2 separate regions of the Homo sapiens genome follow, and region 2 is linked to region 1. The links come from fine-mapping of genetic effects on gene expression. A gene starts in region 1. The other region holds a variant in brackets. All regions are shown on one strand. Distances are from middle to middle.

Region 1 (4,241 bases):
CCTCTCCTAACTTATGGTAGTATTCACATTGACAAAGTTGTGCCTTTTCCAGGTTTCATATGTATCTTGCATCTCTTAATCAGCAGGCAAAACGTGAAGGCCTATCCAGGCCTCATAATGCACTAACTGTGACCTGTCACATCTCTAATCTAGAGATTAGAGTTTGTTACCAACAAAACTCTTGTTAGTTGGAACTCAAACCCCATTTCCTCCAACAACTTTCCTAAAGCCCTCCAGTGAAATGTCTCCTACCCTCCAAACCTCATTAACACTCAGTTAAAACCTCTTTAACACCTATCAGTCTATGCAAAATTCTAATTATTTATGAATCTGTCTCCACTACTCTCCAACACTGACTCTACGTGTATACCTTGCACTGCCCTCCAAACACCAGAGTGCAAATTTCACATGGTAGGGCCTTCGTACTGGCTTACTGAATTGTACTGAAAAGGTGAAGATCTTAATTCGCTGGATATAAAAATAGGTTAGGTGCTGTTTCTAACTCTGCATACCCTCCATAGTCTCAATTTGCTCAAATGTAAAATATTTTTAAAAATACATAAAACTATGAAAGATATAATGGGAGAACCATGGGAATGGCAATAAAGAATGTAAACGTAAAACATGAAGGCCTAAGACAGACGTGATGCCCTCTGCAACTTCCACACGTGGCCCAGTAAATCGGTGCCTGAATTCCTCTCTCGGCTTTCACCATTCTGCCCTGTCATCTCCCTTTACTCTATTTCACAAATCTACCACGCCACAGAGTGTGCAACAGACTCGTTCGTTGAACTCGCCTTAGCTCTTTCTCACAGGACCATACACCTCAAAGCGTATTAGGTAACCGACCCCCTCTTGCCTTGCTCCCGTTCCGGCCTCTGTTGGCCACATTTGCCAGAACAAGAATGGGCAACCATTTCCCTTTAACAGTCCCAACTAAAATGGAAGCGCGTCTAGACCTGGACACCTTTAATCCTGTGTAAGCCCCAGAATTTCTAGGTCACCGCACTTCTTCCACTGCCTACTGTCTCAATGTGACTTGAGATAGACATCTGTCTTCCGAGCGCAGTCTTTATACAACTTCCTAACACCACCTTAAGGTCCCATTACGCTCCACATGCAGCCTACTCTGCAGGCCTCAAGGAAGGATGCTGTGCTTATTCTAGCGGTGACGGTTCCCAAAGATGGCTTGACCTCTGGGCGCCTATCTGAACGGACCCCCAGACCTCCTAACTTCCTTCCTCGAAACTGGGCTTCCCCACTCGTCCTATACTTCCTGAGTTCCCCCCATTCCCCAAATAACATGACCACCTATCACCTCCTCCTCCACTTGGGAGTGCTGCCTCTCGGCTTTCGACTAAGCACTCTTTTCCTTCCCGGCTGGGGCGCGGCCTCCCCCAAGCTCGAGGGTCTCCACGCCCGCCCTTCGCCCGTTCTCTACTGCCGCTCATCCCATACTCACTTTGGGCTTCTCGGACAGTTTCTTCCGGTTCTTCTTCTTCTGTTCCTCGCTCCGGAGATTCTTCAGCAAGGCCAGGTCGTCGGGGGCCGCGGCCGGCACGGCCGCCGCCTCCTCCCGCTTGCGGGGCGGGCTCCTCCGCTTTTTGCGGGCGCCGGCGCAAGCCGCGGCCCAGCCGTAGCCCAGCAGAAACAGCAGCAGCAGCCCGAGCGCGCCAGTGCCCACCAGGATCACCCAGCCGGGGTACCGTTTCGGCTCCAGCCCCAGGTCGAGGCCCAGCTCGGTGCGCAGAAAGCCTAGGCCGACCGAGAGCATTTCCCGCAGCCGGGCCGAGCCCTCCTCGGCCTGCTGGGCCAGCTCGTCCTGCCAGCTCCGTGCAGCCATCTTCCCTCCCGTCAGAGGGACTCGCAGGATGACGCCGGGGCGCGGAGACGCAGTGGAATAGTCGAGGGAAGCGAGGAAGGGCCGGGCCGGGTAACCTCAGGCCGAGCGCATCGCGGCCGTCCCTCGCGCCGGAGCCGGGGATCGGCCGCTGCCACCGCGGGGAGGGCGGAGGGGTCTCCCAGGTTCCCCGCTGTCAGCCTCACTCCGCCGCCGCCAGGAGACCCGGGAGGCGGGAGGGAGTGTCTCCAGTGGCGGCCGCTAAGCGGCGTCTCGGCGCCAGCGCCAGGCCCCGCTGTCCTCCCTCGGCGGAACAATGGCGGCTTGGGCCGCGATCCACGCCGCGCGCGGGGACGACCGTGGGTCACGTGGGCGCCAGTGGGCGGGGCGTGGGCGTCACGTGGGGGCGGGCGGGGTCGGGTGGGGCAAAGGCGTGTCAGGGAAGGTTGGCGGTGGTCGGTTCGGGCCTGGTTAAGACGCGGCGTTGGGGACCCGTTACTGTAGACCAGAAGCTGGGAGGGGTTAATTGGTGGACGCCTTCGCGGGGTGGCTGGTGGCGCAGAGTTAGGAGACGTGGCGCAACGAATGAGTACAGAGGAGGGGCTCCGTGCAAGGCGGGGGCGGGCGGGGGGCGGGTAGGGCTGCAGCGCTAGGAACCGGGTCACCGGGTCTAGGTCAAAGTCGCCCTGGCAGGTATAGGGCTCTTCATGCCTTTTTCTGGAGTGTTATTGAGGTGGAATCGCTTTTTCTCCCTGGTGGCGCCAGTTGGATCCTTCCAGAATGAGCTCAACGGAGTCTGACGCCGAACACTGTTCTTCCGGGACCTAGGTTTAGTTCACAAATTGGGTATTTCTCTCCAGGGTGTTTCTCTCCAGGGCAACTAATACACTGCGTGCCTACCAGTTGCCAGCCTGGCGAGGGCACGTTTGCGTCGTTTGGCTCATTCACTCTTGCTCTCTGTTGTTAGTCCCCAGAATTCAAAAGTTGGAAAGCCCGTGGGCGGCACTATTCTTTTCCTACTAATTTGTAGCTTTAATAACACATAAGGGGAAGCACATTAGATTGTATTTACTTATGGAGGGAGCTTTCTCGTTACGTTTTATTTTAAGCTTTTCTACAACACTGCAAAAGGGGTTTGCAAAAATTCCATTTTTATATGCTATGTTGACCATCTCTGGGATGCAGCTATAGAAGGAAACGAACTGCCTTTTCAAATTTTTTTTTTTTGAGACAAGAGTCTCGCTCTGTCGCCCGGGCTGGAGTGCAGTGGCACTATCTCCGCTCACTGCAAGGTCCGCCTCCTGGGTTCAAGCCATTCTCCTGCCTCAGCCTCCCGAGCAGCTGGGACTATAGGCACCCACCACCACGCCCGGCTAATTTTTTGTATTTTTAGTAGAGACGGGGTTTCACCGTGTTAGCCAGGATGGTCTTGATCTCCTGACCTCGTGATCCGCCCACCTCAGCCTCCCAAAGTGCTGGGATTACAGGCGTGAGCCACCACGCCAGGCCTTCAGGTTTTAATTATAAGGGAAATGCTTGAAGGCTGCCTTAGGGTTTTAAGATTATATTTTGCTATAAGGAAACTCTGTATTTTATCGGTAAATGATCATTAGCGTGTAAGCAACTGTCTTAAGTGAACTAAATACAGGCTTTCTCAAGGAATACAGCAGGGGTAATATTAATAACCACCAAATACCAAAAATGTATTTTGACCTATTTTGCAACAGTGTCGTAATGCATATTGTGATTCATGTGTGGAAGGGAGTTTTGTAAATAATAAATAATAAAAGCATACTACACTTGCCAAGACTTATGATTAAAGACTAAATTAAATTAGGAGGCCAAAAACTTAGCAAATGTTATTGGGATCTGCTTTAACTCAAAGTTTCCAAATTCCATTTATATTTGTGAAATAAGATTTCTGCACGTGTTTTGGTTCTAGAGATGTGAAGGGTCATGATTTTCCTAAGAAGTTCCACTGACTATTCTGACCATTCTAGATAAACATCTGTGAATTTTTTATTTTTTATTTTTTGAGATGGAGTCTCGCTGTGTTGCCGAGGCTGCAGTCGCCCTGACTTCGTGATCCGCGCGCATGGGCCTCCCAAAGTGCTGGGATTACAGGCGTGAGCCACCGCTCCCGGCCCACCTGTGAATTTTCAAATTAAACTATTACAATAATGGCTGGTGCTGTGGCTCACGCCTGTAATCCCAGCTACTCAGGTGGCTGAGGCATGAAAATAACTTGAACCCAGAAGGTGGAGGCTGCAGTGAGCTGAGATCGTGCTACTGCACTCCAGCCTGGGTGACAGAAGGAGATTCTGTCTCAAAACAAAACAAAAAAACCTTTAAATTGAAGTGGTGCCATATGTAAAGAAGTTAAAATCAAGTCTGGCCTAAA
Region 2 (4,241 bases), 52 kb after region 1:
GAACCAAGTTGGAAAACACTATGCAGAATATTTTCCAGGAGAACTTCCCCAATCTAGCAAGGCAGGCCAACATTCAGATTCGGGAAATACAGAGAACGCCACAAAGATACTCCTTGAGAAGAGCAACTCCAAGACACATAATTGTCAGATTCACCAAAGTTGAAATGAAGGAAAAAATGTTAAGGGCAGCCAGAGAGAAAGGTCGGGTTACCCATAAAGGGAAGCCCATCAGACTAACAGCGGATCTCTCGGCAGAAACTCTACAAGCCAGAAGAGAGTGGGGGCCAATATTCAACATTCTTAAAGAAAAGAATTTTCAACCCAGAATTGCATGTCCAGCCAAACTAAGCTTCATAAGTGAAGGAGAAATAAAATACTTTACAGACAAGCAAATGCTGAGAGATTTTGTCACCACCAGGCCTGCCCTAAAAGAGCTCCTGAAGGAAGCACTAAACATGGAAAGGAACAACCAGTACCAGCCACTGCAAAATCATGCCAAATTGTAAAGACCATCGAGGCTAGGAAGAAACTGCATCAACTAACGAGCAAAATAACCAGCTAACATCATCATGACAGGATCAAATTCACACATAACAATATTAACTTTAAATGTAAATGGACTAAATTCTCCAATTAAAGACACAGACTGGCAAATTGGATAAAGAGTCAAGACCCATCAGTGTGCTGTATTCAGGAAACCCATCTCACGTGCAGAGACACACATAGGCTCAAAATAAAAGGATGGAGGAAGATCTACCAAGCAAATGGAAAACAAAAAAAGGCAGGGGTTGCAATCCTAGTCTCTGATAAAACAGACTTTAAACCAACAAAGATCAAAAGAGACAAAGAAGGCCATTACTTAATGGTAAAGGGATCAATTCAACAAGAAGAGCTAACTATCCTAAATATATATGCACCCAATACAGGAGCACCCAGATTCATAAAGCAAGTCCCGAGTGACCTACAAAGAGACTTAGACTCCCACACAATAATAATGGGAGACTTTAACACCCCACTGTCAACATTAGACAGATCAATGAGACAGAAAGTTAACAAAGATACCCAGGAATTGAACTCAGCTCTGCACCAAGTGGACCTAATAGACATCTACAGAACTCTCCACCCCAAATCAACAGAATATACATTTTTTTCAGCACCACACCACACCTATTCCAAAATTGACCACATAGTTGGAAGTAAAGCTCTCCTCAGCAAATGTAAAAGAACAGAAATTATAACAAACTGTCTCTCAGACCACAGTGCAATCAAACTAGAACTCAGGATTAAGAAACTCACTCAAAACCGCTCAGCTACATGGAAACTGAACAACCTGCTCCTGAATGACTACTGGGTACATAACAAAATGAAGGCAGAAATAAAGATGTTGTTTGAAACCAACGAGAACAAAGACACAACATACCAGAATCTCTGGGACACATTCAAAGCAGTGTGTAGAGGGAAATTTATAGCACTAAATGCCCACAAGAGAAAGCAGGAAATATCCAAAATTGACACCCTAACATCACAATTAAAAGAACTAGAAAAGCAAGAGCAAACACATTCAAAAGCTAGCAGAAGGCAAGAAATAACTAAAATCAGAGCAGAACTGAAGGAAATAGAGACACAAAAAACCCTTCAAAAAATTAATGAATCCAGGAGCTGGTTTTTTGAAAGGATCAGCAAAATTGATAGACCGCTAGCAAGACAAAGAAGAAAAGAGAGAAGAATCAAATAGACGCAATAAAAAATGATAAAGGGGATATCACCACCAATCCCACAGAAATACAAACTACCATCAGAGATACTACAAACACCTCTATGCAAATAAACTAGAAAATCTAGAAGAAATGGATAAATTCCTCGACACATACACCCTCCCAAGACTAAACCAGGAAGAAGTTGACTCTCTGAATAGACCAATAACAGGCTCTGAAATTGTGGCAATAATCAATAGCTTACCAACCAAAGAGTACAGGACCAGATGGATTCACAGCCGAATTCTACCAGAGGTACAGGGAGGAACTGGTACCATTCCTTCTGAAACTATTCCAATCAATAGAAAAAGAGGGAATCCTCCCTAACTCATTTTATGAGGCCAGCATCATCCTGATACCAAAGCCAGGCAGAGACACAACCAAAAAAGAGAATTTTAGACCAATATCCTTGATGAACATTGATGCAAAAATCCTCAATAAAATACTGGCAAACCGAATCCAGCAGCACCTCAAAAAGCTTATCCACCATGATCAATTTGGCTTCATCCCTGGGATGCAAGGCTGGTTCAACATATGGAAATCAATAAATGTAATCCAGCATATAAACAGAACCAAAGACAAAAACCACATGATTATCTCAATAGATGCAGAAAAGGCCTTTGACAAAATTCAACAACCCT[T/C]CATGCTAAAAACTCTCAATAAATTAGGTATTGATGGGACGTATCTTAAAATAATAAGAGCTATCTATGACAAACCCACAGCCAATATCATATTGAATGGGCAAAAACTGGAAGCATTCCCTTTGAAAACTGGCACAAGACAGGGATGCCCTCTCTCACCACTCCTATTCAACATAGTGTTGGAAGTTCTGGCCAGGGCAATCAGGCAGGAGAAGGAAATAAAGGGTATTCAATTAGGAAAAGAGGAAGTCAAATTGTCCCTGTTTGCAGATGACATGATTGTATATCTAGAAAACCCCATTGTCTCAGCCCAAAATCTCCTTAAGCTGATAAGGAAGTTCAGCAAAGTCTCAGGATACAAAATCAATGTACAAAAATCACAAGCATTCTTATACACCAATAACAGACAAACAGAGAGCCAAATCATGAGTGAACTCCCATTCACAATTGCTTCAAAGAGAATAAAATACCTAGGAATCCAACTTACAAGGGATGTGAAGGACCTCTTCAAGGAGAACTACAAACCACTGCTCAATGAAATAAAAGAGGATACAAAGAAATGGAAGAACATTCCATGCTCATGGGTAGGAAGAATCAATATCGTGAAAATGGCCATACTGCCCAAGGTAATTTATAGATTCAATGCCATCCCCATCAAGCTACCAATGACTTTCTTCACAGAATTGGAAAAAACTACTTTAAAGTTCATATGGAACCAAAATAGAGCCCGCATTGCCAAGTCAATCCTAAGCCAAAAGAACAAAGCTGGAGGCGTCACGCTACCTGACTTCAAACTATACTACAAGGCTACAGTAACCAAAACAGCATGGTACTGGTACCAAAACAGAGATATAGATCAATGGAACAGAACAGAGCCCTCAGAAATAACGCCACATATCTACAACTATCTGATCTTTGACAAACCTGAGAAAAACAAGCAATGGGGAAAGGATTCCCTATTTAATAAATGGTGCTGGGAAAAGTTGCTAGCCATATGTAGAAAGCTGAAAGTGGATCCCTTCCTTACACCTTATACAAAAATTAATTTAAGATGGATTAAAGACTTAAACGTTAGACCTAAAACCATAAAAACCCTAGAAGAAAACCTAGGCAATACCATTCAGGACATAGGCATGGGCAAGGCCTTCATGTCTAAAACACCAAAAGCAATGGCAACAAAAGCCAAAATTGATAAATGAGATCTAATTAAACTAAAGAGCTTCTGCACAGCAAAAGAAACTACCACCAGAGTGAACAGGCAACCTACAAAATGGGAGAAAATTTTTGCAACCTACTCATCTGACAAAGGGCTAATATCCAGAAGCTACAATGAATTCAAACAAATTTACAAGAAAAAAACAAACAACCCCATCAAAAAGTGGGCAAAGGACATGAACAGACACTTCTCAAAAGAAGACATTTATGCAGCCAACAGACACGTGAAAAAATGCTCACCATCACTGGCCATCAGAGAAATGCAAATCAAAACCACAATGAGATACCATCTCACACCAGTTAGAATGTCAATCATTAAAAAGTCAGGAAACAACAGGTGCTGGAGATGATGTGGAGAAATAGGAACACTTTTATACTGTTGGTGGGACTGTAAACTAGTTCAACCATGGTGGAAGTCAGTGTGGCGATTCCTCAGGGATCTAGAACTAGAAATACCATTTGACCCAGCCATCCCATTACTGAGTATATACCCAAAGGACTATAAATCATGCTGCTATAAAGACACATGCACACGTATGTTTATTGCGGCACTATTCACAATAGCAGAGACTTGGAACCAACCCAAATGTCCAACAATGATAGACTGGATTAAGAAAATGTGGCACATATA

The links. PIP is the estimated chance that this variant, and not a neighbour inherited with it, causes the effect. A credible set is the group of variants that fine-mapping cannot tell apart.
Region 2: its variant is the best candidate, but not a certain one, in a credible set for the expression of MTDH in whole blood (TOPMed, PIP 0.59).

What each region holds. Positions count from the first base shown.
Region 1 is chr8:97,642,109-97,646,349 of GRCh38, reverse strand. It overlaps MTDH (metadherin), which reads right to left and starts at 2,166. Exons shown (of 12, transcript NM_178812.4): 1 at 1,463-2,166. The coding sequence starts at 1,843. RefSeq lists silencers at 1,037-1,205, 1,489-1,558, 1,829-2,288, 2,469-2,578 and enhancers at 357-1,335, 1,336-2,316.
Region 2 is chr8:97,589,944-97,594,184 of GRCh38, reverse strand. No RefSeq gene overlaps it. Among named protein-coding and RNA genes, the nearest start is that of MTDH, 52 kb to the left of the region's middle. The variant T/C (reference allele first, on the strand shown) is at 2,396.